Linked DNA regions of Homo sapiens: all the other regions are linked to region 3. Evidence: fine-mapped expression QTL. A gene starts in region 3. Each other region holds a variant in brackets. All regions are shown on one strand. Distances are from middle to middle. Region 1 has its middle 34 kb from the start of DNAJC1. Region 2 overlaps DNAJC1 (DnaJ heat shock protein family (Hsp40) member C1). Region 3 holds the start of DNAJC1 (DnaJ heat shock protein family (Hsp40) member C1).

What was found. PIP is the estimated chance that this variant, and not a neighbour inherited with it, causes the effect. A credible set is the group of variants that fine-mapping cannot tell apart.
Region 1: its variant is the best candidate, but not a certain one, in a credible set for the expression of DNAJC1 in whole blood (TOPMed, PIP 0.53).
Region 2: its variant is the best candidate, but not a certain one, in a credible set for the expression of DNAJC1 in testis (GTEx, PIP 0.55).

Annotation. Positions count from the first base shown.
Region 1 is chr10:22,033,790-22,041,977 of GRCh38, forward strand. No RefSeq gene overlaps it. Among named protein-coding and RNA genes, the nearest start is that of DNAJC1, 34 kb to the left of the region's middle. The variant T/A (reference allele first, on the strand shown) is at 4,384.
Region 2 is chr10:21,904,239-21,912,426 of GRCh38, forward strand. DNAJC1 (DnaJ heat shock protein family (Hsp40) member C1) reads right to left here. Exons shown (of 12, transcript NM_022365.4): 7 at 284-374. Among named protein-coding and RNA genes, the nearest start is that of DNAJC1, 95 kb to the right of the region's middle. The variant C/G (reference allele first, on the strand shown) is at 3,567.
Region 3 is chr10:22,000,362-22,008,549 of GRCh38, forward strand. DNAJC1 (DnaJ heat shock protein family (Hsp40) member C1) reads right to left here and starts at 3,369. Exons shown (of 12, transcript NM_022365.4): 1 at 2,852-3,369. The coding sequence starts at 3,073. RefSeq lists a silencer at 3,003-3,372 and enhancers at 3,033-3,533, 3,413-3,462, 3,493-3,622.

The DNA of each region.
Region 1 (8,188 bases), 33 kb after region 3:
CGTTTTATATGTCTTGACTGAGTGAGCTGGGCACTGGCAGCCCTGGGAAGCCAAGCTTTGTGTTCAAACCTTGCCTCACTTTGAATCCTGAAAGAAGGCTGTAGTGTTCCAAGCAACACAAATAACTGACTAACTCTATGATATCCTACCTTACTTGTGTTACTTCTCCATGTGAGTCAACTACTTTTGCTGAAAAGGATGATGTACAAGAAAGGGAAAGATAGCTCCTTTTCCTTTCAGTTCTTCTTAACGTCAGTAAGTCAAAAGTAGAAAGTGTTGGTAGAACATGCAGGCATTAAGAAGTGAAATAACAACAGTTGAGTCAATTTTGTATGGTGTTGTTCTGTTAAGAACAAAATACATAGGCGTGTGAGAACTACAAAATACAAATTGTGTAAGTTCAGCAATTCTGCATACGAATTAAATGCTCTTATATTTATATTGAAACCGGCTATGCACAATATAAAGATGAATGCTAAACCATGATAATAATTTACAATTTTAATTTTTCTTTACTTAAAGTGATGTTTTCTTTACTTAAAGTGACAAAATAAAAAGCACCATGGCCTGTTGAGAGAGCGAGACTGCAGAAGAAAGGAAAAGCTTTATAGTATTTTACCATCTTTTATGGTACGTTTCTCTCTTGCTTTTTGAACAAGTCCTGCATTTTCATTTTGCACTGGGCTTTGCCAATTATGCATCCAGCTCAGTATTCATTTTAGTTAAACCCTGCATAAATTTCAGTCTGTTCTTAGCCACGCTGTCCCATGCCAAAGGGCATTTCACAGCCATGGTGTTATTCTTTCTCAAGCCTCTCTGCTTTTATGGTCATTTTCTCACCTATTGGAAATCCCTGGATGTATCAAAGGGGATCTATTGCCTTGAATTGAGAGCTGCTCTAAGAACAGTCTGGCTACACCCAAGCTCTGTATTGTGTAGTGTTCAGTAATTCATTACTCTTGCTTTGCTTTTCTGATTTGCCAAGAGTTTAATTGTTCATTTTGTGGTTCCAACGGTTGTTTCATTGCCTTGCTTTTCTATATAATTATTATAAAGACACCACTTTAAAATATCAAACCTCTCTAAATGACATCCCATCCATCTCCGAGTTTGAGCCATAAGCCTAATCATCTCAGGGAAAGAGACCACAGGTAGAGAACAAATAGGGCATTTCCCAGCTTCATGTCCTAAGGATGACTTCTTTTTTGAATTGAAAGAGAGAGACAGACAGACAGACAGAGAGATTTGAGTGCCAGGATTTCTTAAGAGATCAGGGATTTTCAAATGCATGCATTATCTATTAATATATAATAGGACCAGTTATTACAAATTACCTAGTGAAGAAAGTTTTGTACTGATAGAAAGCGAGTAAAGGAAGCCTGCCCTATCTGGCTATGGTAGGTGATGATCTATTGCAGTTGGTGGAGTGGAACAGAAAAAAAAACCAAACAACTTTAGTTTTGGGGTAGGGACAGAAATATATCTTGGGTTTGGCCCGTTAGAGGTTTCTTCCAGATGCGAGAGGGATAGGAGGACTCGTGTAGACACCCGGATTTACAGCTCCTGCCTAAGACTACAGTTGAACTGGAACAATAGAAAATGTCCCTCACTACAAGGCTAGTACATGCTGACCAACAGCCAACTTCTGAGGGAAGTTCATGAGAATGGAAAGAGATCTTCCCTGATACACAGGCACAAAGAGAAAATCTGAAGCTGAGGCTGCAGCTGTCATTACTAACAAACAAAAACCCTCTGGTAAATCAGCCCCCAAACCCACACCCTAAACCCAAGTTAATTCCGGAGGGATTTAAAATTGAGAGTGGCACATTGAAAATAACTGTAGTAATGACAAAACTTAAACTTAGGCTATCTCACGACTAGATTGACTCAGCTCCCCAAACCAATTGCCTAGTAAAGATGAGGTATGCCTATTTCCAGGCATAAATAGTGTTTACCTCAGTCTCTACTGCCCTGCACATGATGTCTTTTTCAGTAGAAGAATAAGAAACACTACCCTGTGAAGAAACAAAACAGTCAACAAAACTAGGCTCAGATATGTCACAGATGTTGGAATTATCAGTCAGGGAATTAAAGATAGTGATGACTGGCCAGGCACAGTGGCTCATTCCTGTAATCCCAGCACTTTGGAAAGCTGAGGTGGGAGGATCACTTTAGGCCAGAAATTTGAAGCCAGCCTGGTCAACATGGCAAGATCCTGTCTCTACAAGAAAAAAAAAATTAAAAATTAGCCAGGTGTTCACCATCATCCTGAAGCAGCTGGATTGATAGAGTGGTGGACCAGGCATGGTGGTTTGTGCCTGTAGTCATGGCTACCTGGGAGGCTGAGGTGGAAGGATTGATGGAACCCAAAAGTTTGAGGCTGCAATGAGTTATGATTGTGCCACTCCACCTCAGCCTCGATGACAGATAGTCATTTCAGTAAAGACATAAAAATTATAAAAACAAATGAAATGGAAATGATTGGTAGCATGTTAACAGAGATGAAGAATACCTTTGAGAGGTTTATCAGCAGACTCAGTTAAATAATCACTAAATGTGAAGATGATTTAATAAAAATTTCCCAAAATAAAACACAAAGAAGGGAGCAAAAAAGAAAATGTAGAGCATGCAAGCATTGTGGGGGAAAAAATCAAACATCTATTTGGAACCCCAGAAGAAGAAGAGTGAGTGAACAGGGCAGAATAAGTATATGGAAATGATGGCTGAGAATTTTCCAAAATTAATGAGATACCAAATCAACACTCTAGGAGTCTCAATGAACACAAGTCAGTATATATAAGAAAACAAAATGAAACAGGAATCACAGATACATAAGCGTCATGTTCAATTGCCAGAAACCAACAAAAAAGAGAAAAACTTTGAAGACAGCTGGAGGAAAAATAATACACATTATGTACAGAACAAAGGTAAAAATTATAGCAGACTTCTAGTCAGAAACTATGCAGACCAATTGACAATAAAGTGACATTGCTAAAGCACTAAAAGAAAAAAGAAAACTATCAACCCAGATCTTCCTTCACTGATTCAATAAATGAGTCAATAATACTAATGTGATAACAAGGTAAGTCAAGTAATATGTTTCAACAGTCATGTATTCTAGAGTAATTACTTTCTTTTTTTAAACTTAATGCTAAATATTCTTTCTTGAGTACTATTATGAATTCGTGAATTTTTCTATAAAACCTATTTCACATATATATCATTTTCTTTGATGTTCTAATTGTTTTATCCTAGCCAATGTTTAATTGTTTTAGCTGTTTATTGAGTCCTTTGGACCCAGCTTTATAATATGAAAATTTTCTTTCTTTCTGACCTGATAAGGTATCCCAGACTTATATTATACCTTCTGTGCATCAGACACAGAATCAGTCATTTTTCCCAAGGATTCTGGGTACATGTAATGGAAAATGGTATTAAGGACCAAATTCCAGACCCTAGAGGAAGAGATCCAGTTTGTATTGAAGGTGTTAGATTACTCCCAGGCCATTTCAGTGGGCAGAGCTAGAATATATCTATATCTTCACCTATTTTTAACTTTTTATACTTTTTTTCTAAATTAACCAAGTGTTAACATTTGGCCACATTTATCACTCTATTTTATGTGTACATACATTAATTAATATTAATAGTGTCAATATTATTAAGCTGAACTTAATGAGATATTAAGTTACAGAGACCATAAACATTAATCCCTAAATACTTCAGTATATACTTCTTCAGAATAAGAACATTCTTTTACATTATTAGACTATAATAAAATCCAGGAAACTTAACATTGACATACTACTTTTATCTATGGTAACTTCCATGTTTAAGTTTTTCAAAATGTCTTAACAATATCCTTCATAGCAATTTTTTTCATAATTCAAGAGCCAGATCAGGATTATGCATTGTATTTAGTAATCATGTACTTTGATCTCCTTTAATCTGGAACAATTCCTGAACCTTTCTTTGTTTTCTTGTCATTGGCAGTTTTGAAGAATGAAAGCCAGTTATTTTGTAGCTTGTTTTTACATTTGGGTCTGCTTGATTGTTTTCTCATGTTTAAATGGAAGATTATACATTTTGATAGGAATTTTACATTAATGATGACATAATTTTTGGTGCATCACAAATAAACCTGGTTCCCATTATTGGTGATGTTAAGGTGAATCAAATTCAGTTAAGGTGGAGACTACCAGATTTCTTCCCTGTGGTTCCTGTGTTCTTCTCTGTAGTTAATAATCTCTAAGGAGATACTTTGAGATTATGTAAAAATCCTGCTCCCCTTAAACTACCAACCAATAGCTTTAGCATCCATTGATGGACTTTTTTTCACAAATAATTACCATGATGGTTGCAAAATGGTAGGTTTTCTAACTC[T/A]GTGATTCCTTCTGCATTTATTAATTGACATTCCATTGAAAAGAGATTTTCATTCCTGCTTCCCCCACCCCTTGCTTTTCCTCCTTGCTTTTCTTTAGTATGAATTTAAGAAAGTGATACATTCCCTCAAGAGGGTTTAGCCCAAGTTCATCTCTCTTGGACCATGGAATACCTCACCAGTCACTGAAAGCCTCATGTCTTTTGACTGTCGGAGATTCTACATGAATAATCCTTGGACATGAAGCTATGTGTATCAAATCTATGCTTCTCTTCTGGGGCATTAGGGAGTGGCGAGTTATGTAATTCTAATGTTAAATATTCAAGACATACACTAATAAAACCAGCACAATAGTAAGAGGGCTATGTATATTTGGAAATATTCTTGTTTTATAAATAATTGGCATGGTAAACAATTATGTTGCTCACTGCAAGGCTGTTTCCATGCCAATGAACAAGTATTTTATTCTCTTTTCATTTTCTTCTTGACGATTTTAAAAAGTACTCTGCCTTGAATTTGGTTGTTGCTGTTAACTCTTCCGTAGACATTAGTTTGCAATACACACCTAAAATATGAGTTTAAGAAAGTCTGAATATATTTTAAGCATGCAGTGGATGTTGTGGTCAATAGTCAGGCACCCCTACCATCCCCACCACTCCCCAGCTCTCAGTGGCATCCTCTCTGGGAATTGCCCTCAGCTGAGCCGTCTACCTTCCTTCCTGGAACAGCCTATAGAGGAGGAGGACTTGACAAGGTGGAACCATACTGACTAACTCAAGTCAGGAGAACTCTAAAGGGCCCTCCCAGCTCCAGAGCTGCCTGTGGGGTTGTACCACATCTCTGCTTCTCCCACAGCCCAATCCTATTTCCTTCACTTTTCCCACAGGTGTTGGGGCCCAGGGCCCTCCTCAACAAATGACTGTACGTAAATCTCCATTTCAGTCTGTTTCCCAGGGAAACTGACCTTAGTTAGCTTTTGAAGAACCAGATCTGAAAAACAGTCCTATTAATATTTTAGTATGTTTTTGTATGTCGCTCAGAAGCCTATTTTATTTACCTGATTACAGGAAGAGATAACTGGGGTTTGAATTTTTGTTTGTTTGTTTTACATCACAATAGAAGAGTATTTTCGGAAAATGTGAAAATAAATACAACTCCAAACTCAGTTTTAAAAAGGGTTGCCAGTGTAATATTATATTTAGAAACTAAAAGGTGTTCTCTATGTATTCTTTTTTTAAACTTCTAAAAACAGAGCAATAAACATTAGAAAAATAATTTGTGAAAGAAAGAGACAGAACTGAAAGTAAAGTTGTAGAATTGGTGGCAATCAGCTAAACGTTATCACTATTCAGGTTCAAGTACGAAAAATACTTTAAATAAAATATATATGTTTAGTTTTTTTAATTCTAGGATTCACACTGCTCTACAATTTAACCACCAGGTAGGAAAGTAACTAATGAAATACTGACTATTAAGAAGGATGTCCTACTTTATACAAATACATTTAATTTCCCAACTATATCATGAGGTAAACATTATTATTCCGATTTTATGGAAAAGAACACGGAGGTTCAGAGACATTAAGTAATTTTTTCAGGTCACCAAAAGAGTAAGTGGTGGGAATCCCAATTCAACTCAGATCTGCCTGATTTTAGAATTCACGTTCATGATCTAACTCCACAGGGTGTGGTTTCTGGCTTCTAAACTTAAGAATGGGCTGGACCAGACGACACAGTCTGGTTCTGGGATGACAATGGGTGAGAATTTTGACTTTGATTAGTCTGGAGCAGCTTTTATTTAGGTTTGCCCCAGTGGCAAGGTGCAGAAGATGTTGAGATAAGTGTTCAGGCGAGCGGATGTAGCAGCTGGCGCCTTCCTTATTTTTTGTGGAGACGTGCTAGAGGCTCCAAGGGCTGGGCAAGCTCTGAAGGAGATATTTGCCTGGTTGGAGGTGCATCAAACTGTGTGCTTGCTGCCTTTATACCACCAGTCATGTTGGCATTCAGCAAGCATAGACAACTTGTTCTACTAATTATGGCAGTAATTCCACCACTGACGAGACCATGTTGATGTTCTGAACCTCAGAATTCTCTGCCAACACTGGGCATTATACCCTCATCTCTCTCAAGGTCTCAGAGGGAAGGAAGTTTCTACATGTGTCCACTTGGACTAGCCTGTCCATAGCCTCCCTTAAGAAGGCAGGACTCAGACTGGACATGGTGGCTCACACCTGTAATCTCAGGACTTTGGGAGGTTGAGGTGGGAGGATTGCTTGAAGCCAGAAGTTTGAGACCAGCTTGGGCGACACAGTGAGACCCTGTCTTACCAGCCCCCGTACCCCTCCCCAATAAACAAATAAATAAAATAAATAAATAAGAAGGCAGGACTCCTAGCCATTTGGCTAAACTGTCACCTCTGTAACTACAGTTCAAAGACTTCATATGCCAAATGGAGTATCTGTATAAATAAGTGATTTAAGTTACTTAGAACAATAATTTTTTGTCAAATTTTATTATGTGAGGATAATTAAAATACATTAATTAAAATTAAAACACATTAATTAAAATATATTAATCAGTCACAATGGCCCAGTGCTAAGAAGATAAATTCACATAAATTTTAAAGTTTTAAAATGTGGGTGTAATAACATATCATCATATGATTTAATGTGCAAGGGAAAAATTGTGAATATATTTAGATTATTCCTTGGTCTAGAACTTCGTCAAAATAAAGTGGAGATCTGAGGCAAGTGAGGACACAAAGAAAGTGAAGATGCCTTAGTACTGTGTTTCATACATAGTTGTAACCTACCTTTAGAGATAGTAAAGCAAAAAATTAGAATGATTTAGATTGTTTAGCTGGGAGAAAATAAAACAGATGGTATTCTGTTCTTAATTTGCAATGTTAAGAAAGGTAGAAGAGCATACATCTTTTTTTTTTTTTTTTTGAGACGGAGTCTCATTCTGTCACCCAGTCTACCAGGCTAGAGTGCAGTGCCGCGATCTCGGCTCACTGCAACTCCTCCCTCCCGGGTTCAAGTGGTTCTTCTGCCTTAGCCTTGGGAGTAGCTGGGACTACAGGCAAGTGCCACCATGCAGGGTTTCACTATGTTAGCCAGGATGGTCTCAATCTCCTGATCTCGTGATCCGCCCACCTTGGCCTCCCAAAGTGCTGGGATTACAGGCATGAGCCGTCGTGCCCAGCCAAGCATACATCTTTTAAATCCACAATCTTTCTTTCCATTCCTCAGCAGAAATTATGCTTAGAACATAGGAAAAGGGACTCAACTGGTAAATAAATGATCAGGCATGATTATTTTTATTCTTAAAATTCTTTCCTTGTTATAAAAGTAACGCACAGCATGTAGAAAGTTAGGAAAATATTGACCAACATGAAAAGAGAATAAAGGTTGCTCAGATGCTACTCAACAAAAGATAATTAACATTTTGGTGTATTTCTTTTTTTTCCTATCTTTTCAATTTTGATTAGGTAATACATTCACATGGTTCAAAAATTCGAAGTTACAAAAAACATACCCAGTCACCTAGGCATGGAGTTCTGCCACCTGGAAACAAGCAATGTATATTTCTCATGTATTTTTCCAAATCATTCCAGAGCTAATGTGTGTATGTAAAAACAGATACATGTAGTTTTCCCTTTTTCTTTTTTTCAGAAACTATAGCATACTATACACACTGTTGTGCAACTTATTATTTTTTACTTAACCATAAATCTTGGAGATTTTTCATATCAATCTACAAAGGACTTTCTCTCTCTCTCTCTCTCTTTTTTTTTTTACTTCTGTGT
Region 2 (8,188 bases), 96 kb before region 3:
ATTTTAGGGCTTTGCAGACTTTGGATGCCCCTAGATTTGAGGAGTTACATGACTCAAGCTGATTTTATCCTTCCTTCTGATATCAAACTTTGGGTGGTAAAGTAATGCTATAATGTAGGATGTTCCATGTCAAATACATTAAGTACAAGTGACTCCACTAGGGAGTGGGAAAAAAAAAAAAAGAAAACCAGAAAATTTAATTACTGCTGAATTTAAAAGATAATTCACATTTAAATAATTAATTTTATATGACATTGTTAAAACACTAATGTTTAAAACTCACTTTGAAGTGTTTCAAGTTCAGTTCTAGTCAGTGCATCTTCCTTTTCCTTCAATCTTGTTTCTTTATATTTAGCATAAAACTGCCCAGCATCCTTAAGAAAAAAAGTTATACATAAATTAACATAAAAATCAGTGTGCTTCAATAATATTTTCCATGTAACTTAACTTTAAAGCATTATATTCATTTTATAAGTAGGCTTTCTTTTTGTTTTCAAATTTTATGATGAGCAGAAATTAAACATTTCTCTATGATTTTTCTCTCCTGGAGAGCCAGTTACAATGAGAAATTTTATGAGTATAATTTTAAACTATTTTTTCTCTCAGATATGGAAAGGAGGTATCCTCTTCCTGTTTTCTTCCATTGTATGCTATTTTCATAATATACTGTTGCATATACAGAGAGCAGAAAAACTCATTTGCTGAACTGATTTGGCACAGTAAATTATATTACTGTGACTAACAAAGTACTACTGCTATTTTCATATTAGCCCTTTAACTACAATAGATATTCAAAATTATCTTCAAATCTGATTATAAAACTTATACGAGCATGTATATAAAAGTGAAAGGTGCCACTCCTCCTTTTACCACCCTTAGAGACGAGTATAAAAACCATTACCATGAAGTCTTGAGGATTGAGGACTGAGGACACATACTGCATACATATACTTAGGTGTCAAGATACAGTGACTGAAGTCTCAATGAGTGGCACACAGGTAAGGCTTTAGTGGTGTACCAAAAAAAAAAAAAACCTAGGTCTTAAATAATGACATACATAAAAATAAACAAGCTGATGCTCTAGGCATATGAGATCCCGACAATGAAAATAAGCAAAACAGATCTTTTACCACACTCCTTGGCTCAAACCTCAGATAGTCTATAGGAATACCACTTGTATTAACAGCTGCCAGCCCACACTGTGCTTCCATGTCTGTGCAATTGCTTTGCCCTCTGGCTACAATATTGTACTTCCCTGGCATTATTCTGATGAACTCTTATTAATCCCTGAAAACCCATTCAAGCCCCATCTCCTTTGCAAGTTTTTCTGACCTTCTCTGGCAGTGTAATTCTCCCTTGTACACTACTTCTATATTTAAACATGTCTATAACTGCTTGTATCATGTTATATTCTCTTCCAGATGAGAAATTGAGAAAGGGATACTTACATGCCCAGAGCACAGTATCTGCCATAAAGCAGGTACTCAATAAGTATTTACCGAATTGAACTAGACTGAAATATGTGAGAAACCTAATAAAGCAAGAAATGAAGGGGCCTGATGACTAACTAAGGTGAAATAAGAAAAAGAAGGGTTTCAAGAATAACTCTAGGGTAACATTCTCAGACCATAAGATTCCTAGAGCAGATAAATCATAGACCCATCTGAGAGAGCTTTATTTCTGCAAGAAATAAAGGAACAAAATCTTTGACACTACTTTGACTCAGATGTAAATACATAAATACTTAAACCCTAGAAACTCTTTTCGTCTACGACTGTGTCCAAATTAAAGCTTTTTCCTGGGGGTCTGTGTCTCTTGGGGTTCTATCAGAACTCTTCCACCTAATAAGAATTTGGTATTCCTAAAATCATTGAATCAATACAATACAGATGTATTGTTAATATAGTAAAAGATCTCTTAATTCTTTTCATCCCCACTTTTATGTTCCTACCTCATTTCTATGAGGATTCACACAAGCCCTAGGCCAGGTAAACAATGGTACTACTAGAAGAGCACAGATGGCCATGCAACCAACTTACTCATCCTCCCATGCCCATATATAGTTTAAGTTTCAACAGGGTTTTGGGTTAAGGTTTTATAGCCCTTAACATTCCCCACCCCCCTTAAAAAAAGTCAACCCTAAAGAAGTATTATTTTATATTAAGCCATATGAGTCATTTATACCTTGGTGTGAATGAATGAATGAGCTTATTAGCTTCTTTCCACAGAGTAGGTTTTAATAGTAGGGAAGAAGAAAAGGTCAGGAAGGCATTGGCTCCTTGAGGGGAGTAGGAAATGTGGCACATGCAAGAAAAGAAGGGCACAGATTAGTTATTTATGAGAGGTAAAAGAAAGTAGGCTGAAATCAATCATCACAGTATAGCACAGTGAAATATGGTGATTAAGAGGACAGATTTGGAGCCAGACTATCTGAATTAAGAACTCAGCTCTGCCATCTTACTAGCTATGTGACATTCAGAAAATTATTTTACTTCTCTGTGGGTCCATTTTCTCATTCATAAAATGGGGATAACAAAAGTACCTAACTTATAGGACTGTTATGAAGATTAAATGTGTTAATACCTGGGAAACAGTTAGAATGATATCTTCTACACAGTTAGGCCTTATATGTATGTTAGCTATTTTTATTATTACTTCTACCAATTTGACAAGGATCTTGTTTTCCAACACAAAGGATGAGTTTTGTGCTTCATACTTCACCAAAATTCCCCTGCCAAATCCTGTATCTTCTTGCTTATGTGACCTTTTTAATTGCATCCTTCTCACTTCATTTTGCTGTATAATAGCAACCTCTCCCTAGTAGTCCTGCCAAATTTGAACATTTTCCCTGTTAATGTTTCTTCTTCCTGCTATGGGACATAATCCCACTAAAACTTCCTCTTTGAAATACACATTTAATCCAAATCCTCACTTATCTGAGGACTGCAATCCACCCAATCACCCTAACCTACTCTACTTAATCTGAGACTTTCATTACATTCCCTAGTTTCAGTCACTATTTTTATCTTCCTTTTGCTCCATTTCTAAGCATTTATTTAAACATTCCTCATGTTTTTTTTTTTTCATATCTTACCTATGCTTTGAAATCAAATTACAATATGCCCACTCCAGGAAACATTACTTCCTTAACAATCTATGAACTCAAGCAATTCTACTTTACTAAACAACTCTACATTGTTTCAACCATCCCTGTGTATAGTTTGGGGTATCACACTTTAAGATGCACTGACAAATAGAAAGACTTTAAAAGGAAAGTGATTAAATAGGGAGGCAGCTTGAAACTCTATTTTTATAAGGGATTAGAGATAAGAAGACTGGGGATAACTTCATAACTACCATACAATATCTCAAGGTTTATTACAGGCAAGAATGTTGTAAACTACTGCATATGATTCCAGAGATGAAAGTTTTGACTTTGGATCAATATGAGGAAGAAGCCAGGTGTGGTGGCTCACACCTGCAATCCTAGCACTTCGGGAAGCCCAGGTGGGCGGATCACTTGAGGGCAGGAGTTCAAGACTAGCCTGGCCAACATGGTGAAGCCC[C/G]ATGTGTACTAAAAATACAAAAAATTAGCCAGGTGTGGTGGCAGGCACCTGTAATCCCCGCTACTCAGGAGGCTGAGGCAAGAGAATTGCTTGAACCTGGGAGGTGGAGGTTGCAGTGAGCCAAGATCACACCACTGAACTCCAGCATGGGCCACAGAGTGAGACTCTGTCTGAAATATATGAAATATATATGAAATATATTATATATAATAATATATATAAATATATAATATAATATAATATATAAATATATATAATATAATATACATAAATATATATTATATATAAAATATATATAATATATAAAATATATATATAATATATAATATATAAAAATATATAATATATAATATATAAAAATATATAATATATAATATATAAAAATATATATTATATATATAAAATATATATTATATATAATATATATAAAATATATATAATATAGAGAAAATATATATATATATTTTATATATATATATATATAAGAATTTCCTAATAATTAAAATTACCTGAAAATGAAATCGGCTGATTTTGGAGATAGTATTCAAGAAGAAACCACGTGGCTATTCTTTAAGGTATGTTCTAAGGTATGGCTATTCTGTAAGGTATGCTTTTGAATCCAAGCATTCAAAAGAGGATGAATAAGATAAATTGTTTTCAACCTTTTTTCCCTCCCATTTTTCATGGGGGGGGGGTGAATTCAAGTGAATAAAATTATAATAAAATCGTTTAATGGGAAAAATAAGCACAAAAACTTATTTGGGTCCAGAGTAAACTCCAGTTTACCTACACAGAAAGTTAGATTTCCTGGGGATATAAACTTCTAATCCATCCTTATAGCCCTAGTACACTGCCTGGCACTTACAGAAGCTTAATAAATATTTAATGAATAATTAAATGCTTACTTCAATTGATTAGGGCTCTGAACTGCCTGCCTCATAATACTGTATTAAAATTATGGAGTTTACATTTTTCCAAACAGAAAGAACTCCTATTCTCAAGGAGTTTATAATCCTTATGAATGGAACCATGAGCAAAAGTTTTTATTCTAGAAGCAACTGTATTAGTACTTAAAATTTCTTTCTTTTTTTTTTTCCCCAAGACAGAGTCTCGCTGTGTCGCCCAGGCTGGAGTGCAGTGACATGATCTCAGCTCACTGCAACCTCCGCCTCCCGGGTTTAAGCAATTATCCCTGCCTCAGCCTCCCAAGTAGCTGGGATAACAGGTGCCCACCACCACGTCTGGCTAATTTTTGTATTTTTTAGTAGAGACGGGGTTTTGCCATGTTGGCCAGGCTGGTCTTGAACTCCTGGCCTCAGGTGATCTGCCTGCTTCGGCCTCCCAAAGTGCTGGGATTACAGGCGTAAGCCACCGCCCCTGGCCAATATTTAAGATTTCCTGAAGAGCTCAAAACCTGCCTTCATAGACATCAAACAGGGGACAGGTTTTACATTTAAACTATGGCTAACTTAAATAATGTATGAGTGTTCTTTGTACGTAATTATAGAGCATAGGCTCCTGCACAAGAAGACATTAAACAGGGATATTTATGCTTATTTATTGAACCATTATTATATGTATTGTACATTATTAGGATATGTGGTGATTATATAAGATACAACAGTTTCCCTTAAGGAATATGTAAAAATAACTATAAATATTAACTAAAATATGGAATATAGAATATAAGCTCTGTGAGAACAGGAATTGTTGTCTTTCACCCCCTACCCCTGCCCCGGCACAAAGTAAATAATGCAATCAATAAATAAAGTTTGTTGAATGAATTACTGGCAAAGAAAGTGGTGCTCACTCAACATTCTGTTTCCCTATATTCCGCTGTCCTCTTAAGATTAGGTGGGGTCAGAAGACTAGTTCTGGATGGGCTGTGGATGGAAATATCATGTGTCATTTCCAAACCAACTCACAGAAAAACTCATGCAAATCCTCCAGCTCTCTCCTCTTGTCATAATGAGCAAGGAGGCCACATGTTCCAGATGGATACAGCTAAGAAGGTGGTGAACACATCATTGCTCTGAGCTCCTGAATGGTTAGGTAGACCAGAATGCCCACTTTCCTATCAACCAGTGACAGACATGAGGCATATGCCAGAAACAGACTAAGGTCTATCAGTCTACCGTGATTAATACAAATAGTAAATGCTGTAAAGTTAGTATGGAGAACATACAATGAGAATTTTTCAGTTGGCCTGATGAAGGAAGGCTTCATAATGATGATAATTTAGTTAAGCCTGAAGATACAATATTTCCAAGATTAGTAAGCTGTGAGATAGGGAATATCCTTACATTAAACCTTTTTTTTTTTTCTTTTTCAGATGGAGTCTTGCTCTGTCACCCAGGCTGGAGTGGAGAGGCAAGATCTCGGCTCACTGCAACCTCCACCTTCTGGGTTCAAGCGATTCTCCTGCCTCAGTCTCCCAAATAGCTGGGACTACAGGTGCCTGCCACCACACTCGGCTAATATTTATATTTTTAGTAAGACGGCGTTTCACAATGTTGTCCAGGCTGGTCTCGAACTCTTGATCTCTGGTGATCCGCCCACCTTGGCCTCCCAAAGTGCTGGTGTGAGCCACCGCACCCGGACACCCTTTAACATTCTTGACATAGTTCATTAAGTGATAAGAGAACATGCTAAGGTGGCACTGTTTATAATGTTTTGGTTCACTTTTATCTCTCCATATAAACATCAACATATTAAGCAATCCAAAGAAAAGCTTAAGAAACAAGGGCATTAAACTAACAGAAAACCAAACACTGCATGTTCTCACTCATAAGTGGGAGCTGAAAAATGAGAATACGTGGACACAAGAAGGGGAATAACACACATCAGGGCCTGTGGTGGGGTGGGAAGAGGGTGAGCTTCAGGATAAATAGCTAATAATGCATATGGGGCTTAATACCTAGGTGATGGGTATTAAGCAAACCACCATGGCACACGTTTCCCTATGTAACAAACCTGTAAATTCTGCACATGTAGCCCAGAACAAGAAAAGAAAGGAAAGAAAGGAAGGAGAGGAGAGGAGAGGAGAGGAGAGGAGAGGAGAGGAGAGGAGAGGAGAGGAGGAAGGAAAGGAAGGAAAGAAAAGGAAGAAAGAAAGAGAGAGATGGAGAGAGAGAAAGAGACAAAGAAGAGAGAGAGAAAGAAAGAGGGGGGGAAGAGAGAAAGAGGGAGAGAGGGAGAAAGAAAGAGAAAGAGAAAAAGAGAAAGAAAGAGAGAGAAAGGAAGGAAGGAAGGAAGGAAGGAAGGAAGGAAGGAAGGAAGGAAGGCGGGAAGGCGGGAAGGCGGGCAGGCGGGGCAGGCATTGATTTACAGTGGTAGGGGGAGGGAAATACCACCTGTCCTGATGGGAATAAGGAACGTGGAAGAGCTATGAGGAAGGATACCTAGAAACAATATAGAGGATGTTCTATTTCTTTTTCATTGTTTGATAGCCCAAATCTTCTCTTTCGTTTGAGGCTTAGAAATAACCTTCAATGTAGGAAAATACCATAAGTACATTTCTGAAAATCTGCCCACAAAATCAAATGCTCTATATTGTTTTGTTCTCCCATTGACTTATACTATAATCTCAGAATTACATATAATATGCAATAAAATTACAATGAAAAATATAGAAAAACTGTAAAATTGTACATTTTGATAAGAGTCAAAATTTCTGTACAGAACTATAATAAGACTAAATCCACAAAAAGTAATAAAAATAAAACAGAAAACCAGAAGCTACTGTCTTCCTCTGGTCTGAGACTGTAATATTCAAGGAGATGCACAGCCTAAAAACTATTTTTTCCATTTGTTCCAAGAGATAGAAGAGACTGTAGAAGCCATTTATTCAGCCCTAACTCAATGTAAGAATCCTACAACTTATGTCCTACAGATGTCCCCAACTTAATGATGGTTTAACAGAACAACTTTTCCATTTTATGATGGTGAGATAGTGATATGCATTCAGTAGAAACCATACTTCCAGGGTCTATATAATCATTCTGTTTGTTTTTTCTTTCAGTACAGTATTCAGTAAATTACATGGGATATTCAGCGCTTTTTAAAAATAAAATAGGCTTTGTATTAGATTATTTTACCCAACTGTGGGCTAAACGTAAGTGTTCTGAGCGTGTTTAAGGTAGGCTAGGCTAAGCTATGAGTTTCCGGAGGTTAGGTATATTTAATGTATTTGCAACTTAGGGTATTTTCTCCTTATGATGGGCTTATCAGGATGCAATCGATAAGTTGAGGAAAATGTGTAATTATAATCAGCCTGAACATTCTGACAGGGAGTTTAAGATTACACAGCTTATACTATAAAGTTCTAGTTATCGACCTGGGGCGAAATTTATTCTTTTTTAGTTTTTATTTTTCTTATGTATTTTTTTCTTATATTTTAATATTTATTTTCATCTGCTTTCAGTTTCATTTCTACCATTAACTAGTTGTGTCACTTTGGGGAAATTGTTTCACCAATTTGAGTCTTAAGTATTTTCATCTATAAAATATGGAATTGATGAGACTATATGTTGCTAACATCCTACCTAACATTTTGTGGCTTTTTATCTTTTCTACATCTAGCAATAACTTACAAAACTCTATAGTCTGTCTTTGGATCTCTG
Region 3 (8,188 bases):
CCCCCAACTTACTTATAAGTAAAAGCCGAAGTCCTTACAATGGCCTACAAAGCCCTACATGGTCTTCCCTTACCACCTATGACTCAGATCTTGTCTCCTATTGCTGTTCTCCCATTACTGTTTTCCTTGATCACTCTGCTCCAGCCACACTGCCTGCCTTGCTATTCCTCAAACGCTAAGCAAGCTCTTGCCTCCTGGCCTTTGTGCTTACTGTCTGCTCTTCCTTGAATGTCCTTCTACCATGCTATGGTCTGAATGTTTTTGTCCTTCGAAATTCTTATGTTGAAATCTAATCCCCATTGTGACAGTAATACAAGGTGGGGCCTCTGTGAGGTGATTATATCACGAAGGTGGAGTCCTAATGGATGAGATTAGTGTCCTTATAAAAGAAGCCCCAGAGAGCTGCCCTGCCCGTACCACCATGTGAGGACACAGCAAGAAGGTGCCATCTATGACCAGAAGGCCCTCACCAGACACAGAATCTGCCGGTGCCTTAATCTTGGATTTCCCAGCCTCCAGAATTGTGAGAAATCAAGTTCTCCTGTTGAAAAGCTGTCCAGTTCATGGCATTTTGCTATGGCAGCCCAAATGGCCTACAACACAACAATTACCCACATGGCTTACTCCCTAACTTCTCTCAGAGGCCTGCTCTGACCATATAACATTTATATTTACTTACTTGGCTGTTTACTGTCTGTTTCTCCCTACTGAATTATAAGCTTAGGGGTTTTGTTTTATATAAAGGTCAACTCCCAATGCTTAAAATCCAATAGGCACCAAACAAATCTCTGTTGCGTGAACAAGAAGAGATTAGTGCACAGAGCCAGGTCACCACTTTCAGCAGCCTACCTACTTTGTTCTGGTCCCTCATGTTTGGCTAGTCACCAAATGGCTCTGGCTTGAAAACTACACATGAAAGACCCTGGACAGGTTGCATTTGTCTCCACCAAATTTCTGGTCCCTGAAAGTCATCTAACAAAGTTAAGATTCAATGTAAAGAAAAAAACTTGTTCCATTCAGTTTCTCTGCTTGGACAGAATAAAATTCCTCCTGGCATTCTTTCCAATTTTAATACAGCTGGATAGAGAAACACAGGTTAAAACAATTTTCTGGATCCTTCTTTTCGGATTCTACCTTGACAAAGAATCTTCTTGATTATCTATGCTTCTTTATTTTCTCATCTTTGCCCAGAGAGTCAAGTGCTCTGGTTGTTCACACTGCCTAATTAACTATGCAAATCAAGTTACATGAAATTATAAATGAAAATTCTATGAGTGTTCACATGCAAAGCTAGATTACATGATCTAAATTTTAAACTGCTACTAAATTTCTGTTCTCTTAAAGGCACTTAATTTTTCATGAATAACTGGATCTTCAAGATTTCTGGATAGATTATGTTTAAGACTCTCTTTACGTACAGAATGTAATCAATGATAAATTCTAATTATTCCCAGTATTAAAGTAGTTCTTAAAAGTCATCAGAGCTTCACTAATTATTTTTACACATACTCCATCATTTGCTTTGAAAATGAGATATATAGTGTATCTATAAGCAGGGAGGGGCACCAGGCAACAGATCATAAATATAGTTATTACAAAGTTGCTTGCACATATGAATCTGAAGTGTGAAATGCCTATACTTTATAACTCTTACAAAAATAAAAAATTGTTTCACTCATGGTACCCTGGCAACCCAGCAATTTTATATTCACTGATGGAATGAAAATGCAATGTCTGAAAATTAAAATTCAGTAAAAGTTCAATAGTTCACCCACATTTATGATAACCTATGGGGGAAGGGGATGTGCATTTCATATCTAGTCATGTGAAGTGTGCCTTGAATGGCAACTATCGTAAACATTAATTTTTTACTCCCATAACTATTCAAAGCATTGTACGAAGGGCTCAATCAGATCGTGTGAAGTGTACATTTTTCACCCCATAAGCCTGAAATCAGCGAAATGTTATCTTCTCCTTCGCACAAGGCTTCAGGTAGAGACTGGATATCTACCCTCACTCAACCACCCTCAATGGTAGAACTAAAAAGCAACAAATGGATTTTACAAGTTAATGTCTTAAGCTATAGAAGAAAACGAAATGAAACAAAAGGAAAAGGGGAAAAAAAAACCCATTCCTACATTACTGACCGGGGGCTTCTCTTCCAATCGCATCCCAAGTCCTTTGCTGCTCAAAAAACTTAACACCTCCAACCTGGTTAGACGCTTCAAATTCCTCCAGATTTCTAAACTGCGAAAGCGAAACAAACATCTACCTAACAGGCTAAAAAGATGACGAAGTACAAAGTAAGAAAAACTTTTGCAACACAGACACTGGCCACAGTGCATTCCTACTTTCCCAGAAGGGAAGAGGAGGGGAGGCAGCTGAAATAAGAATAAGGATGAGGTAAGTATCGGTGGAAGATGACAGTTTAGGGTGAGAAGCGGCTGCTCTTTCTCACATTCAGGGGGACAGGAAGGCAAAAGGTAGGTGTTAAATTAAAAAAAAAAAAAAGTCTACCCACACCACTCTTCGTTCTTCCTCCAGCACAGCTGGAGGGGGAAGGCTCTTCCCCAGAACGCCGGAGCAGAGAGAAGGCATCGCCACCCTAGGCTAGTGGCGCCGTCCAGCCTGTCACTGGGGCTGGGACTAGAAAAGTTGAAGCAGGAGTAAAGATCTGGGGAAGACGGACACGTCCTTCCAAGGCTGAGGACCCCGGTGACCCGAGCTGAGGGCAGCCAGAGCCCGGGGTGACCAAGCCCTGCCCTACGTGTCCGGCTGTCTCTGAGGAACCGGGTCGCCTGACGCCTGCCCTGGCCCCTCTCCGCCCGGCCCCGCGCGCCTCCTTGCTTACCTGCTGCACCCCGAGGAACTGGTAGAAGTTGAGCTGCACCTCCTCCACTAAGTCAAACAACTCCAGGTCTCCGCTCTCCCAGCCGCGCGCCGGCGCCACGGCGGCCAGCAGCAGCAGCAGCAGCCACAGCAGCGGCGTCCGCGGCGGCGGCGGCGGGAACGGCACCAGCCCGAGCTGGCGGCGTCCAGGAAGCTGCGCCGGCTGGGAGCAAGGAGCCGTCATCGCGCTGGGCTCGGAAAGGTCACCCGCCGCGCAGCTCCGTTGGCCGAGAGCTGGGACGTGGCGGGCGGCGCTGGCTGTGGGGAACAGCGCCTGTCAGTGAAAAGCGCGGGCAGGCGCACCGGAGCGGCCCGCCAGGTGGCTGGCCCCAGACAGAGCGCGGAGGCGGCGGGAGCCGGCTGCCGGACGGGCGGGTGGGTAGGCGGGCGGGGCCGCAGCCAGCGCTACGTTCCGAAGACCCTCGCCCCCAGGCCTACACACAGCTGTAGAGGCAGCGCCCGGCGCCTGGGCTGCACAGTGGGTGAGGCTTCCCTTCGCCTCAGCCTATCCCAGGCCTCGCTTCCGGTGACATCATGTCTCCTAGCAACCGCGGGAAGGGGGCGTGGCCGGAAGCCTGGACGCCTGGCGCCCCAGATCTGGGCCTGGGTGAAATGCCTCTCAATCACTGGCGCGCACGGAGCAGCTGTACCTGCGCCCACATGGGCTGAGAGACAGGGACGGTTATAGCCATCTCGCGTCCATCTGGAACGCCCCACGTGGACTTCCCCTGAAATAGCTACTGTCTTCCTCTCCCCTAGCTATCGAACACTAAAAGCATATTTGAAGCCTGATTAATTGATTATGGCTTCCATGCATTTAATTAGTCCATCAGCAAAGAAGACAGGACAAGTTGAACCAGGTTCTAAAAGGGGCAAATCTAGTAAGTAGAGAGAGGTAGAGCAGAAAAGGAATTGAAACCAAAACAAAAAGTATACTTCTAATTATGAATTAAGATTTACAGGCATAATACCATAAAATGACCTGGTAGAATTAACAGTTAATAATGGTGACTCAATCATAGTTGGAGGAGAAATGTAGTTTATCCACCTTAGCCCACCTCCAGTTGGGGTTCCTTTGAAAACAGACCTCAATTGAGATGTTTCTGTTTTAAAAGACAGGCTAAAAACCTCCTCTCCCATAACAATGTCTCACCTTCTAGTCTTGCATTGCTTCTGTTCAAGCTCTTTTCAAGTTATTTTCTCCACCACAATTCTCTTGTGTGGACTTTATTATTGTGTGCTTAGCACAATGCATAGCACATGAGAGCACTCAATTAGTTGAACTGAATCCTGTGACTACCTCCCTACCACCATTCCCCCTACCACAGATTTTTAGTTTATTTATTTATTTATTTAGAGACGGAGTTTTGCTCTTGTTGCACAGGCTGGAGTGCAATGACACCATCTCGGCTCACTGCAACCTCTGCCTCCCACGTTCAAGCAATTCTCCTGGCTCAGCCTCCCGAGTAGCTAGGATTACAGACTCCTGCCACCATGCCTGGCTAATTTTTTGTATTTTTAGTAGAGACGGGGTTTCACCGTGTAGGCCAGATTGGTCTCAAACTCCTGACCTCACATGATGTGATCTACCCACCTCAGCCTCCCAAACTGCTGGGATTACAGGCATGAGCCACCACCCCCAGCCTAGTTTATTTTTGGTTATATCAGTTTTCTTAAAGTGAACGTCATCTTTACCAAGTCCCTAAATTAGGTTACTGTTTATTCAATGAACAAAACATCGAAATAAGATGAAATTAATGATCTTAAGCACTACTTTTACATATTATAGTAACATTCATCTTTTCTCCTAATTTGATCATTAGATTAAGTGCAATAAAACCTTTGAAACTGGTGCCATATTGCCACAAATCTGGGATTCTTACCCCGATCTTGTAGCAGACAGCCTAGTATTTCCCTTTTGAGTTTTACCTTTATGTTGTCTGAGAACCTCGGGGACTTACTCCATCTAAAGATAGCCCATCCTCTTTCTAAGGCCATGCTGAAACAGAATTGGATTCTATTAATAATACTTCTCATGGACATAAGGTATTACTCAAAAATTCATGCTGCCCAGCTCCAATGACACTTGTCCACCCTGAGATGATCTTCTTGCTTGTCCAGGTTCCTGCAAAGACCACAGTGATATTCATATTTAGACTTCTAGCTTGGCCTCTTTACCTATTCAGTCATTGTCCCAAAAATTACAGTGCAATTGAATAAATCTTTTGCTGAGGTCTGAACTAAGGGAGTGACAGTATCCACTGTTTTCTTCCCTGGTGACATGTACTAATTCTGGGCATAGACTCATCCAGCTTGGCCTGGGCAGAGGGAGTTTACACAGAAAAAGAGAAACCAGTGAGATGTTTAACCATCATGTGAGCTGTGAAATGGATTGGAAATATAGAGGAGCCCCAAACATATAGCCAGTTTTCCCACAGGACATTCGCTGAGTTCTGGGGTGGTGCAGGAGGCTGAGCAGCTGGGCGTGATAGGCAGAGTAAAATTACCCCATATTCTACTGCATAGAAAGCTAATTCTGCTTAGAAGGATCCTGCCTCAAATACACAAGCATTCTCCCCCTTCAAGACATTTACACTATTTTTGAAGTTGTATGAGAAGGAGGCTGAAGATCTACGTTTAAAACCTCTCAAAGGCAGAACTGAATCTCAGAGCAGAGGAAACAGCAGCTGTCCAGGCTCTTGATCAAAAGCCCAGAGGAATCACACATGAAGAAGAGAGAGAAACCACAAGAGAACTATCTTACTGAAACCGCACCCCAATCCCAACCCAGCTCATCCTTGATTAGACAGAGATAATCAGAACATCATCCTATTTGTCTATGTTTATCCCTAGAAGAAAATAACATCATCTATATTGTCTATAGATCTTTAATATAAAAGTCTAACATTTGTAAAAAAAAATTATGAGGTGTGAGAAGAGCAGGAAAATTTGACCAACAATCAAGAAAAAAAAAATAATAGAAGATCCACAGATAAGCCAACTATTGAAGTTTAGATAAGAACTTTAAAATAACTATTATGAAATAAAGCCATAGGTTATAAAATAGAAGAAAACATGAACAAGATGGATTAAAATATGCAGAATTTTAAGAGTATTAAAATCCATAAAAAAGAATCAATGGAAAATATTTAACTGAAAAATGTAATTTCTGAAAGGAATATTGCAATGGATCAGTTTAATAGCAACCTGGACACAGCAGAACAGAGGGTTAGTGAATTTGGAGACTGAGCAAGAAAAAATACCTAAACTCAAGCACAGAGAGAAAAACAAATGGAAAAAATAGAACACAGCTTAATAGGCATGTGTACAATGAATAAACCCAGGATAGGTATAACTGGAGCCTTAGAAAAAGAGGAGACAGAGAATGAAGCAGAAGCAATATTTGAAGATATAATAGCCAAGAATTTTACAAAAGTAATGAAAGACATAAAACCACAGATGAAAAAAATATCTCAAAATGAATCCTAGACCTCAATGTATGAGTTAATGCTACCAAACTCTTGTAAGAAAAAAAGGGAGTAAATCTTAGTGACCTTGGGTTAGCCAGTGGTTTCTTATATATGACACAGAAACATAAATGACAGAAGAAAAAAAATAGATAAATTGGACTGCACAGAAATTAAACGTATGCTGCAAACAATATTATCAACAAAGTAAAAAGACAAGAGAATAGGAGACAATATTTGTAAACCACATACTTGATAGGGTACTTAGATCCAGAATTTGTCAAAGATTCTTACAACTCAACAACTAAAACAACCCCCCTTTTTTTGTTAATGGGCAAACAAGTTGAATAGACATTTCTTCAAAAATATGGAAATGACCAATAATCACATGAAAAGATGCTCAACATCTGTAGTCATCAGGGAAATGCAGATCAAGACTACAATGACATGCTACTTCTCACCAAGTAGGATGGCTATAATCAAAAAGATAGACAAGAAAAAGTGTTGAACATGTGGAGAAATTGGAACCCTCTCACATTACCGCTAGGAACTCAAAATGATGGAGCCCCTTAGGAAAACAATTTGGCAGTTCCTCCAAAAGCTAAATGTAGAGTTACTATATTACCCAACAATTCCACTTCTAGAGAAAAGAAACATATGGCCACACAAAAACTTGTACAAAAATGTTCATAGCAGCATTATTCACAATAATCAAAAAGTTTGTAAACAACCCAAATGCTCATCAACTGAAGAAGGAATAAACAAAGTGTGGTATATCTATGCAGTGGAATATTATTCTGCAATATAATGAAATGAAGTGTGGATATATGCTGTGACATCGATGAGTTTTGAAAACATGCCATGTGAAAGAAGCCAGTCACAAAAAAATCACCTATTGTATAATTCCAGTTATATGATATGTCCAGAATAGGCAAACTTACAAAGACAGAAAGTAGGTTAGTAGTTACTTAGGGATAGGGAGTAGATAAGGTTACAGATTAACTGCTAATGACTGTAAGATTTCTTTTAGGGGATGTGAAAATGTTCTAAAATTGGATTATGGCAATGATTGTATAACCCGGTTTAGTATATTAAATACTAAAAAAACACTGACTTAAATATACTTTAAATAGGTGAATTGTGTAGTACGTCAATTGTATCTCACTAAGGCTGTTAAAACAGAAAGAAAAAAACAACCACTCACAAATACAATACACTCAACAAACCCCAAAATGGATAAATGCAACAAAGCAAAGCAAATCTAAGTATATCATCGCCAAACTGCAGCAAAGCTTGTGGGATGTAGTGAAGGCAGTAACTTCAAAGAACATCTGTGGCACGGCACTGTGGCTCACGCCTGTAATCCTAGCACTTTGGGAGGCTGAGGTGGGCAGATCACTTGAGATCAGGAGTTTGAGACCAGCCTGGCCAGCATGGCAAAACCCCATCTTTACCAAAATTACCAAAAAAAATTAGCTGGGCATGATGGCGTGCGCCTGAAATCCTAGCTACTTTGGAGGCTGAGTCACGAGAATTGTTTGAACCTGGGAGATGGACATTGCAGTGAGGTGAGATTGCACCACTGCACTCCAGCCTGGGCCACAGAGCGAGACTCTGTCTTGGGAAAAAAAAAAAAAAGAACATTTGTAGCCTTAAATGTCTTAAGGAAAGAAGGCAGAAAATTAATGAGCTATGTGTTCAACATAAGGAGTTACACAAATAACTACAGGATAAATTCAAGTGAAGATTCCAATGAAGACATCTAGTTGTTTTTATCATGGTGCTTATGCAGGTGAGCTGGGAGCATATCAGCTCATGCATAATTTTTTTTA